3 linked regions of the Homo sapiens genome follow. The protein of the gene in region 1 purifies or fractionates together with the protein of each later gene. This does not show direct contact. Each region holds a gene or a part of one and is shown in the gene's direction. Other genes may lie near its edges. The genes, in order: TXNDC11, CCDC102A and PCNT.

Region 1 (2,784 bases):
AGGGCCACGATGTGTTTTCAGTTGTTGTGGGGTTTTTTGGTTTTCTGTTTTTGAGACAAGGTCTGACTCTGTTGCCCAGGCTGGAGTGCAGTGGTGCAATTACGGCTCACTGCAGTCTTGAACTCCTGGACTCAAGTGATCCTCCCACCTCAGGCTCCTAAGTAGCTGGATCTACAGGTGTGTGCCACCTTGCCTGGCTAATTTTTTTATCTTACTTTTTATACAGATGAGGCCTTACTATATTGTCCAGGCTGGTCTCAAACTCCTGGCCTCAAGCGATCCTCCCACCTCAGCCTCCCAAAGCACTGGGATTACAGGCACACAGCACCACACCCAGCTTTGTCATTTGAATGGCTGGGCCCCACTTGAAGAAAGCTTATATGTTAAGAAAACTAAGCTTTAAAGGAGGGGATGGTTGAATGTTTACCCCAAAATTATAAAACAATTTACGGCCGGGTCCAGTGGCCCTGGGCAGCCAGGCTCTGGAGTCCCTGCTGTTGACTTCCATTCTGTTAACACCTGAGGGAGACAAACTCGGCTGCCGGCCCACCTCATACCTAAGTGCATAAAGCTGGTAGTTTTGATCAATTGCAGCCAGGCTGTACAGGCACAGGTAAATAGATATGTGAGAGAAACATCATCAGACGATTAAATGACAAGTTCTGAAGAGGAATTTTCTAGATCTCTAGATCAGGACCTGGAACAAAGCTGTAGGGAAAACCCCTTTCTATGTCACCTTCCTTCCTTATTCTGTGCTCTCAGGGCTGGGCAGCCTGAATTCATAGTCCTTTGGTTGGGCTGTTTGCCAGTTATCAGGTTGCCAGGTGTGAGCCAGATGTACCTGGGGAATGGGGGTACAGTCACCCCCAGTTGAGAACCCCTGCCTTAGAGAATGTGTAATAAATGCTTGCTGAAGAAACAGACTGGGTATCTTTCAAGTTCTTCCTTTTTCTCCGGGCACTGTCAGTGGGCACAAGAGGGACATAGGTGGGACACTCCTGCCTCCCCTGGACGCTCTTCCTGACACAGCCGCTGGGCATCTCCGAGCACACAGAGGCCCCATGCCTACACACTCCTGGGGCCCTGCATCACTGGCTTTAGGCCTGGGCCTAGGAGCTCTTGTCTTTCTTGGAGGGTGTGGGTGAAGCTGAGCTCTGGCTTCAGGAACAGATAAGCCATCTTAATTACAGAACGAGCATATGGGACAGCCTCAGCTTTGTAGAGAATTTCTTGCCCAGGCAACATTTTCCTTACTTTCAGTAAGTAAAATCCACGGAACGTCTTTTCTTGGTGAGAAGTAGATGGCCTGGCCTCAGGTACAGCCTGCTTTTGGACTCATTGTGTTGGTGTGACTCCTGTCTTTGCTTCCTTTCCCTCTCTCTCCAGAAAGGACCTAAGTGTGAAATACCCCGAAGACGTCCCCATCACCCTTCCAAACCTGTTGAGGTTCATTTTGCATCACTCAGACCCTGCTTCCAGCCCCCAGAATGTGGCTAACTCTCCTACCAAGGAGTGTCTTCAGAGCGAGGCAGTCTTACAGCGGGGGCACATCTCCCACTTGGAGAGAGAGATCCAGAAACTGAGAGCAGAAATAAGCAGCCTCCAGCGAGCACAAGTGCAGGTGGAGTCCCAGCTCTCCAGTGCCCGCAGAGATGAGCACCGGCTGCGGCAGCAGCAGCGGGCCCTGGAAGAGCAGCACAGCCTGCTCCACGCACACAGTGAGCAGCTGCAGGCCCTCTATGAGCAGAAGACACGTGAGCTGCAGGAGCTGGCCCGCAAGCTGCAGGAGCTGGCCGATGCCTCAGAAAACCTCCTTACCGAGAACACGTGGCTCAAGATCCTGGTGGCGACCATGGAGAGGAAACTGGAGGGCAGGGATGGAGCTGAAAGCCTGGCGGCCCAGAGAGAGGTCCACCCCAAGCAGCCTGAGCCCTCAGCCACCCCCCAGCTCCCTGGCAGCTCCCCTCCACCTGCCAATGTCAGCGCCACACTGGTGTCTGAAAGGAATAAGGAGAACAGGACAGACTAACTTTTTAAATGATATGAAGAAATCAGAGGTGAAAATTGTACATTGGGAATATATTTATGCAAATTTTATTGAAATTTATTGTAAATAAAGATTTTCTCAGTGGTCTAGAAAATCAGCTTGAATGTCATTCAGCATTTATTGAAGAAGGATGACATCCCTTCCACTTATTGCACAAACTTGGTAGCTTTGAGACAAATACAGTAGCACAGTCCGTTTGAAGATTTGTCCAAAAAATTAGTCCATATTTTAGTGGCTCAGTGTCAAGAGTTCCCTCCCTGTGCCCCCACTGTTGCTTCTGCAGTGATACGAAGGATGAATGCTTAATTTCTTATTAGTCAGAAAACTTGAATGCAACAGTTGGGCATTCAAAAATAATCCAGAGAGGTCATAACCTACTTAGCCATTTGAGTGTGGCTCTGGTGTCTGCTAAAAAAAGTAGCTATTGAAAAAACAGTGAGAGCTATGATGTGGTTCACTCATTCTAGAAGCATTTTCATTTTCCTCCCGAAAACCCCCCCAGTGCCTCACCGAGCCCCGGACCTTCACCCAACACGGCTGCCACGCTCAAATGGGCCTGATTCAAACTCCCAGGTACGTCCCTGGCACCAGGGAGTAGGATAAGAAAACCTCCAGAAGTGAAACTGATGAGGAAGTGACATTTAATCACTTCAAAACCGAAACTTCACTGGCAAGGTCAAAACCCCAGGCCAAGGCTGACAATCGAGCGCTGGTCAGTTCCAGGGGTCAGGCTCGGA
Region 2 (4,344 bases), about 46 Mb from region 1:
TCCACCACCTTCCCCAGCCCCATTTCCACCTCCAAAAACTCTGGGCAAGACCTCTGGGCTCTTGATCCAAGGCTGTTACTGGCTGTAGGACCTTGTGCAAGTCTGAGCCAAGAGCCTCTCTGAGCCTTCATTTCCTCAGCTGTAAAATGTGGATGCCCTTGTCCTCTGAGTACTCAAACCCCACATACATCTCCTATCTATCTCTGGCTGGTGAACAGACGCTTTCAACATTCAGCCACGCATAACAAATACAAAGCAAATGAATCGACAAGTGAAACTGCCAGTCTTGCAACGTATGGGATTTCATGAAGTTGGTGGAAGCAAAGCAGGAGAAATGGAACAGCCGCTGCCCACAGAGAAAGGGAACGTCTGCAAGGGAAGTGACCCAGACCCGAAAAAAGGCACTGGACTATCAAAGGATTCAGAGTGATCCTTGAGTTTGAGGAAGCTCTCAAATATTTTTGCAAAAATGAATCTCTTACTGCAAAAACCAGTTCAGAAGGGAAGGATGCTACATACTCAACTATTACAAGAAAAAGCAAGACTTCCAGTGTTAACATCTGATTCATTCTTGGTTCATTTTAAGGCGTGCGTGGTTGCAATCATAATCTAAACTCCGTTAATCACGGGGTAAAACTAATTTATCTTCGTAATATTTAGCTTCTTTTTCTAGGTAAAATCCCAATCAGGCCAGGTTTTCCCCACCATCTTGGTGAATTGTTGGTCTTCTTTTAAATAGATTCACCTCGGGGGCCTTCCAGGGTACAGGATGTAGTGGGGAGTCCTCCAGACGCCTGTCCCGGCTTTCCAGTCAAGACCACAAACATCCTACCCCCAATAGAGAGAAAGCCCCAAAACAGCTGGGCGTCCCCGAAGGCGAAGTACCGTAATTCCCCAGGGCCTGCCAACCACCATCGCAATGCAGAGAAAAGTCTCCGCCCGCCGGGCCGAGTGCTCCCCGCGCCCCCCACCTCTTAACAAGCGCAAGGTTGCTTTCGTCAACCCTTCTGTTGTACAGAAAGAGAAACTGAGGCCCGATGGGCACAGACTTGTTGGCCCACTTCCACTCGGTGGCAGAGCTGGCCCAGGGAAAAATGCAGGTAACAACAGTGAAGACTTGGTAAGCTCGCTCCACGTGCCGAGCTGGGACCCGCGGTGGCCGTTTCTGCTGGGGGCGCCTAGTACGTAGTTGGCGCTGAGGAAACCTGAACCAAGAAAGCCGAGCCCCCCCGCAACTCTCGGCCCCTCACGGGGGTGGGGCCTCCGTTGGGGTACGGCCCGCTCTGCAGCAGAGCCCACCGCCCCGGCCCGCACCCCTCGCCCCGAAGTTAGGCTGGAGCCCCCACCCCAGCAGCTCGGTGGGCCGGGGTCACAGCGGGGCCGCAGCCTGCGACCGCTTCGGGGGCCCCGCCGCTCCCCCTGCTTCCCCTCCCCCCGGGAGGGAGGAGGAGACTCCGCGGCCCTCCCTCGGCCCCTCCGGCGGCGGTCGCAGCTGCACGGTGCCCGCTCTACCCCGCCGCAGCGGCTGGGACGTACGGAGCCCGCAAGTCCCGGCCCGAGGTGAGCGGGGGCGGCAGGCCGGGGGGCGGCAGGCCAAGGCGGCCCGGGAACTTGCTCCAGGCCGCGCGCCTTCCGCGGGAAGGAAGGGGTTAAGTTGTGGGGCGTGCTGGAGGAGCAGACACAGTCGGGGCGCCCGCGGCAACCCCCGAACTCAGAGCAGAACTTTCTAGACGCCTCCCCGGCCTCCCTCAGCCCCCGGAACCCCAGGTCTCCGGTGGGGAGGGGCCGCGGGGTGATGGGGGAGGGGAGGCGCCTCCGGAATGCCGCGGCCCGGGCCGGACGGGAGGGGGCGGCGGGCGGGGACGGAATTTGGGACTCTCCCGGGGGACCCAACGTGGTCGCCATGGCGAATGCGGGATGGACGGGCGGCGCTGGCCAATCAGAGCACGGCGCCCTGCCCAGAGCCGCGGCGACTGCCAATGGGGGCCATGCGGTGGGGTGGGCGGGACCGCGCGGCGCGGGCCGGGAACCCCCTCCACCCTCCGCCCGTCGCTAGGTGGAGCGGGGCGGTTCGCAGGGCCAGCGGCTTGGGAGGGGTCGACTAAGTGAGGACTAAGGCGACGCAGGGCTGGGGCTTCAGTTTCAGTACCTTAGGTGGGGGTGGTGTCCACCTTCCCACCCCCGCTCTCCCAGGGCTCTTGTGGGGGTTGGATTGGTTTGGGTTCGGGAGGTCTGCCCACCTGTTAGAGCGTTCAGGAATCTTTTTAGTGCCTCTCCCCATCCTGTAGGTAAGGAAACTGAGGCCCAGAGAGGGCAGGGACTTGCAGATATCACACAGCATATCAGTGATGGAGCTGGGACTAGCGGGATGTCTGCTGTACAAGAGTGAAGAGTTCACGGTGTTGCCGAGAGGGGTGGGGCTGGGGTCGGGGTGGGGCTGGGTCCCCATGAAGGTTCACCCCACCATTCCAGCTGTGCGTATCCACTTGGCCTGGTGCCTGCAGACCCCATCGTGTAGGTGCTCTCGGGGGCATTGTGCCCCTCAGGTGGCTAAGATCCAGAAGAGGAGGCATCCCATCACCAGCTCCCTACTCTGGCCTTGCTGCTGGTCCGCGGTGTGGACACAGACACGTAGCTGTCCCTCTGGGCCTCAGTTGGTCCATATGTAAAGAAAGGAGTTCAAATCAATGATCCAGGCTGTCTCTGTGGCTCCTCAGTCTAAGATGGGGCTACCTGGGAATAGGCCAGGGGTGCCTACCCCTGGGCTTAGGTCCAGCCTGGAGGCCTAGCCGCCATCCCTTCCTTTCCCGCCAGCCAGCTCCCCCCAGAGGTCCTGCAGCTGGATCCTGGGCAGCAGGTCACAGGGACAGGTGCCCGCAGTCTGTGGGCTGACCAGCCTTGGGCCCTGCACTTATTCAATCAGGCTGTCCTCTGTGGTTTCCCACTGGGCTCTGCTTTCTGTCCACAGCCAGGCCTGTGGCCATGGGCTTGTCCCAGGGCCCTACCTGAAAGGCTCTGGGAGGATCTACAGGGTTTCAGAGCCGGGGAAGGGGTTGGGGCACTGGGCTCCCCATCCCTTCAGCTGGCCCCTGTCCAGGCCTTGGCATTGCTCATTCCTCTCACTGATATGGAGAGACCCATCCAAACATGCTGAGGACAAAACACAACGCTGTTCCCAGTGGGTCAATTAGGCTTCCCCAGGTAAAAGGTGGGACAGCCGACTTGGCCGTGAGATGACCTCTTATTCCAACCCTGGCCAGACAGGCTCAGATACCTACCTGTCTCAGAGCCTGGCCACCGACTGACTCCTGATCTTTAGGATGACTCAACCTTCCCAAACTCTGCATGGTCACAAGGGTACCCCTAAGAGTGGTACCACCTTCTTAGGGGTACCTTCCATCCATCACGCATCTGCTGTATGCTGGGCCCTGTGCTGATGCCCTCGCTCGTGGACTTCAAAGTAAGGCCTTTGCTGTAGAACACGGAGGTGCCTGGTGCTTTGGGAGCATACTCTGTGCAGAGAGGTTAGAGAAGGCTTCCTAGGGGAGGGGACACTGGAGGTGGGTTTTGAAGGATGTGTAGGAGTTTGCTGATGAAGGAAGGAGAGATATTCCAGACAAGTCCACAAGCAACAGGAACCACTGGGTCACTTTCTGTGGGCAGGGCTGATGAGGGCCTAGCCTGCAGCAAGTGTCAGCTCAAAATATTCTTGTTTCTGTCCTGGAGTGAGCTACCAGTGAGCACAGCTGTGGGGCTGGGGTTCAGGAGCCCTGATGGAAGCTCTAAGTGGCACAAGTGTCCCATCTGGATGAGGGAAGCCTGTACTGCCAGAAGAGAGATGGCAGCTTGCCAGGCTTGGCTGTGGGAGGTTGTAGGGCTGTGGTCCCCAGGTGGGGGTGGGGTTGGGGAGATCAAGGCATTTCCTGGAGTTGGTGGCAGCTGAACTTGAAGATGGGTGGGGGTTTTGGAGTCTGGGACATGGGCATTTGGAATACAAACCCAGAGACTTAAAGCAGTAATAGACCTGTCTGGCTGTTGGGAGGCAGGACAACGAAGGGTGGGGTAGGAAAGGCTCCCCGGGGCCTGTGGTGGCCGGTCCCACCGTGACCTGCCCCTTGGTGGGGCAGTATGCCAAGGGAACAGGAGGCCACGCCCCACGCACATAGACACCCCATGGCAAGAGGGCATTGAGCCTGGTGGAAGGGGCGGGCAGGGCAGCTGGGGCATCTCCACGACTGTAAGCCATGCTCTGCGCTGCTGCTGCCCCTCAGTGAGTGTGTGCGTTACCAGGGCTGTGTGTGAGTGTGCACGTTACTGGGGCTGCGTGTGAGTCTGTGCATTACC
Region 3 (3,646 bases), on another chromosome or scaffold:
GCCTGGGGCCCGGCCTCTGCACCTGCCCGCCCGACACTCACCTGTGTGGCCTTGGGAGCAGAGGGTGGTGACAGGGCATCATCTAGTCAAGCCCCTGAGTGTTGCCATGGTTGTCAGCTGATAGGACTGAGCAGAAAGGACCCTGGAGACAGGCAGCGCTGGGTGGGGCTGGCACGGAGGCCTCACTCTTGGGCCTGATGTGGGCAAGAGGGGCCTGGGTTGGGCTCTGAGTGCTGGCAGATTCTTGGGAGCTCATGCTAGAGTTCAGGAATGTCTCGTAGGTTTCTACATTTAATTTAGCTTCTTCGGGAGTTTTTATGTAGATGCTCAGGTCATCTGTGGGTAAGTAACGATTTTTTGTTTCTTGCCCGTGTTCTCTCACGTGCTGTGCCGTCAGCTGTGTGGGCAGATGCCATTCCCTGCTCTTAGTTTTGGGGGCAGGAGCTGGTCTCGTACCATCGCATGTGGGGTCAGGCGCCCTTGGTCAGCTTGGGCAAGTGCCCTCTGTTCCTAGTTTTGGATTCCGTCAAGGGGAACGGCCTTGCAGTTCAGCCCACGGCCCTTGTCCCGGCGCCCATGCCCTTTGTGCTCTCTGGGGCTGGGGGCCGGCGCTGTGCACATGCTCGTGAGGGGCATGGGTGGGGCTGGCGCTGTGCAAGCGCTTGTCAGGGGCATGGGCGGGGGGTGCCGGCGCTGTGCGAGCGCTCGTGAGAGGCATGGGGGGGCTGGCGCTGTGCACGTGCTCGTGAGGGGCACGGGCAGGGGGTGCCGGCGCTGTGCGAGCGCTCGTGAGGGGCATGGGGGGGCTGGCGCTGTGCACGTGCTCGTGAGGGGCACAGGGGGGCCGGCACTGTGCGATCGCTCGTGAGGGGCATGGGGGTGGTGGGCCGGTGCTGTCTGAGTGCTCGTGAGGGGCACTGGTCTGTTTTCTGTTGTGCCTTTTTGGTCTTGGTGCTGGGTAGCGCCAGCCCCACGGGGTGCGGGAAGTATTTGGGAAGTAGCCCCTCCGCCCTCCGTTGTCTAGAATTGGGGTTATTTCTTCCTTAAGTTTTGGGAGAATTTTCCAGTAAAGCCACCTGGGCCTGGAGTTCCCTCTGTTGGAGGCAGTTTAGGGTGTGAGTGGGGGTGAGGTGGCATTTTTAGGATGGCCCCAGGGCTATATCACTCCTGGACTCTGTGTCTCCCGGCCAGGTGGGTGGGCCCTGGAAGGAAATGGGCCCAGAGGGCAGAATTGAGCATCCTGGTTCCACCCGCAGTGAAAGCTTCTAGTCCACAGAACCTCCTTTCTTCCCGAAGCACATACACCTCACGCCCCCACGAGTCTGTCTCTAACCTGGTGTCACTTGTGCAGCACGAGGAGCTCATGGGGGCCTGTTACTGTTCTTTTGTCTTTCTCAGTTGAACTGCTGGCTTATAAAGTAGAGCAGGAGAAGTGCATTGCTGGTGACTTGCAGAAGACGCTGAGTGAAGAGCAAGAGAAGGCAAACAGCGTGCAGAAGCTCCTGGCGGCGGAGCAGACTGTAGTGCGAGATTTGAAGTCCGACCTCTGTGAGAGCAGGCAGAAGAGCGAACAGCTGTCCCGGTCCCTCTGCGAGGTGCAGCAGGAGGTCCTCCAGCTGAGGTGCGCCTGATCCCCCTTCCTGGGACACTGGCGGGAGTCCCCCCGTTGTGCCATGTTTTCTTGGTGATGAAGGGAGACAGAACCTCTGGTGGGCCGCAGTTGGGCAGCCCCAGGGGCACCGCGCCCTGCTGTCCCTGGGTTGATAATCCTGTGGTGGGGGGTGAAGCACACGTGTGGGACCTGGCAGGGCTCTGCCTCCCCTCCTGGAGCTCCCAGCCCCCGGGAACACACTCTGGCCCACGTGGTCAGATTGTTCTGCGATGTCTCCACGCAGATCCATGCTGAGCAGTAAGGAGAACGAGCTGAAGGCCGCGCTTCAGGAGCTGGAGAGTGAGCAGGGGAAGGGGCGTGCCCTGCAGAGCCAGCTGGAGGAGGAGCAGCTGCGGCACCTGCAGAGGGAGAGCCAGAGTGCCAAGGCCCTGGAGGTAACAGGGTGTCAGGGCAAGGCAGCCGGCATGGGCTGTGTGCACTGGAAGCCTGAAGCCATGCTCCTCTTTCATCCTTCTTTTCCTGTTCTTCATGGCAGTGCACCCAGTTGACAGCAGTGTGACGTAGCAGGATAGGGCTGTGTTTGCAGGTAAAATTGCACCTTGGTGTAGTGGCAGCCACCACAGGGCGAAGAGTGCGATGACCCGTGGTGGCACGATACCCCTGCTCGGAGCCCCCCCCCGTCCCTGAGCACTTGCTGTGGAGATGGACACAGCCTCCTCGCTGGCATCCAGACAGAGCACAGCCTCAGAGGTCTGTGCACAAGGCAGGCTGGTGGTGGGGCCTCTGCTTTGCATGGCGGAGGCCCAGCAGGCCTGCTGTGGCTTCTGAGCAAGTCTGTGCCAGTTCCATGGGTTATGGCTTTCAACAGCATGGAAGTGGTGGTTCCTAGCAAGCTGGGTGTGTATCTCTGAGCCTCTGGTGGAGTGATTTTCTGAAGAGGGGGCAGGAGCCTCTGGTGGAGTGATTTTCTGAAGAGGGGGCAGGAGCCTCTGGTGGAGTGATTTTCTGGAGAGGGGGCGGGCAGGGGACATCTCTGAATCATTTTCTGGAGAGGGACAGACTGGGAACATCTCTGAACCCAGGACTCAACACCATTTCCGAAAAAAGTATGTCATCTCCGCAGTCTGGGTTTTTTGTTACTTGATGAACTAACAAAAAAATGTTGTCCCTACATGTGGCTAATAGGGTGCATTTCAAAAGGTAGAATTGCTGGGCTAAAGTATATAAACAAATGTGGACAGGAAAACCATGTAGACACTTTTCCTCTTGATTCAGTGTCTCCCATCGTATGTGTTTGCTGTCTAGGAGCTGCGGGCGTCTTTGGAGACACAGCGTGCTCAGAGCAGTCGACTCTGCGTGGCACTGAAACACGAGCAGACGGCCAAGGACAACCTGCAGAAGGAGCTGCGTATCGAGCACTCACGCTGCGAGGCCTTGCTGGCTCAGGAGCGGAGCCAGCTCTCTGAGCTCCAGAAGGACCTTGCGGCTGAGAAGAGCCGCACCCTGGAGCTGTCAGAGGCCTTGCGGCACGAGCGGCTCCTGACCGAGCAGCTGAGCCAGAGGACACAGGAGGCTTGCGTGCACCAGGACACACAGGCCCATCACGCTCTGCTGCAGAAGCTGAAGGAGGAGAAGTCCCGGGTGGTGGACTTGCAAGCGATGCTTGAAAAGGTGCAGCAGCAAGCCCTGCATTCTCAGCAGCAGCTTGAGGCTGAGGCTCAGAAGCACTGTGAGGCGCTCAGGAGAGAGAAGGAGGTAAGTGCCACACTGAAGTCGACGGTGGAAGCCCTGCACACCCAAAAACGAGAGCTGAGATGCTCTCTGGAGAGAGAGAGGGAGAAACCAGCGTGGTTGCAGGCAGAATTAGAGCAGTCACACCCACGGTTGAAAGAGCAAGAAGGACGCAAGGCTGCGAGGAGGAGCGCGGAGGCCAGGCAGAGCCCAGCGGCTGCGGAGCAGTGGAGGAAGTGGCAGAGAGACAAGGAGAAGCTGGTGAGAGCCGCCTGCCGGCGGAGCGTCCACACCTAAAAACGA

The links.
Region 2: the proteins of TXNDC11 (region 1) and CCDC102A purify together in Homo sapiens (affinity purification with mass spectrometry; 2 studies listed by BioGRID and IntAct, with this or other methods). This does not show direct contact.
Region 3: the proteins of TXNDC11 (region 1) and PCNT purify together in Homo sapiens (affinity purification with mass spectrometry; 3 studies listed by BioGRID and IntAct, with this or other methods). This does not show direct contact.

Annotation. Positions count from the first base shown.
Region 1 is NC_000016.10:11,678,440-11,681,223, reverse strand, and holds the end of TXNDC11 (thioredoxin domain-containing protein 11), read left to right. Parts: intron 1-1,386; coding exon 1,387-2,029; 3' UTR 2,030-2,141; downstream 2,142-2,784. UniProt on the Homo sapiens protein: May act as a redox regulator involved in DUOX proteins folding. The interaction with DUOX1 and DUOX2 suggest that it belongs to a multiprotein complex constituting the thyroid H(2)O(2) generating system.
Region 2 is NC_000016.10:57,533,716-57,538,059, reverse strand, and holds the start of CCDC102A (coiled-coil domain-containing protein 102A), read left to right. Parts: upstream 1-1,488; 5' UTR 1,489-1,560; intron 1,561-4,344.
Region 3 is NC_000021.9:46,428,612-46,432,257, forward strand, and holds part of PCNT (pericentrin), read left to right. Parts: intron 1-1,398; coding exon 1,399-1,621; intron 1,622-1,895; coding exon 1,896-2,046; intron 2,047-2,917; coding exon 2,918-3,604; intron 3,605-3,646. UniProt on the Homo sapiens protein: Integral component of the filamentous matrix of the centrosome involved in the initial establishment of organized microtubule arrays in both mitosis and meiosis. Plays a role, together with DISC1, in the microtubule network formation.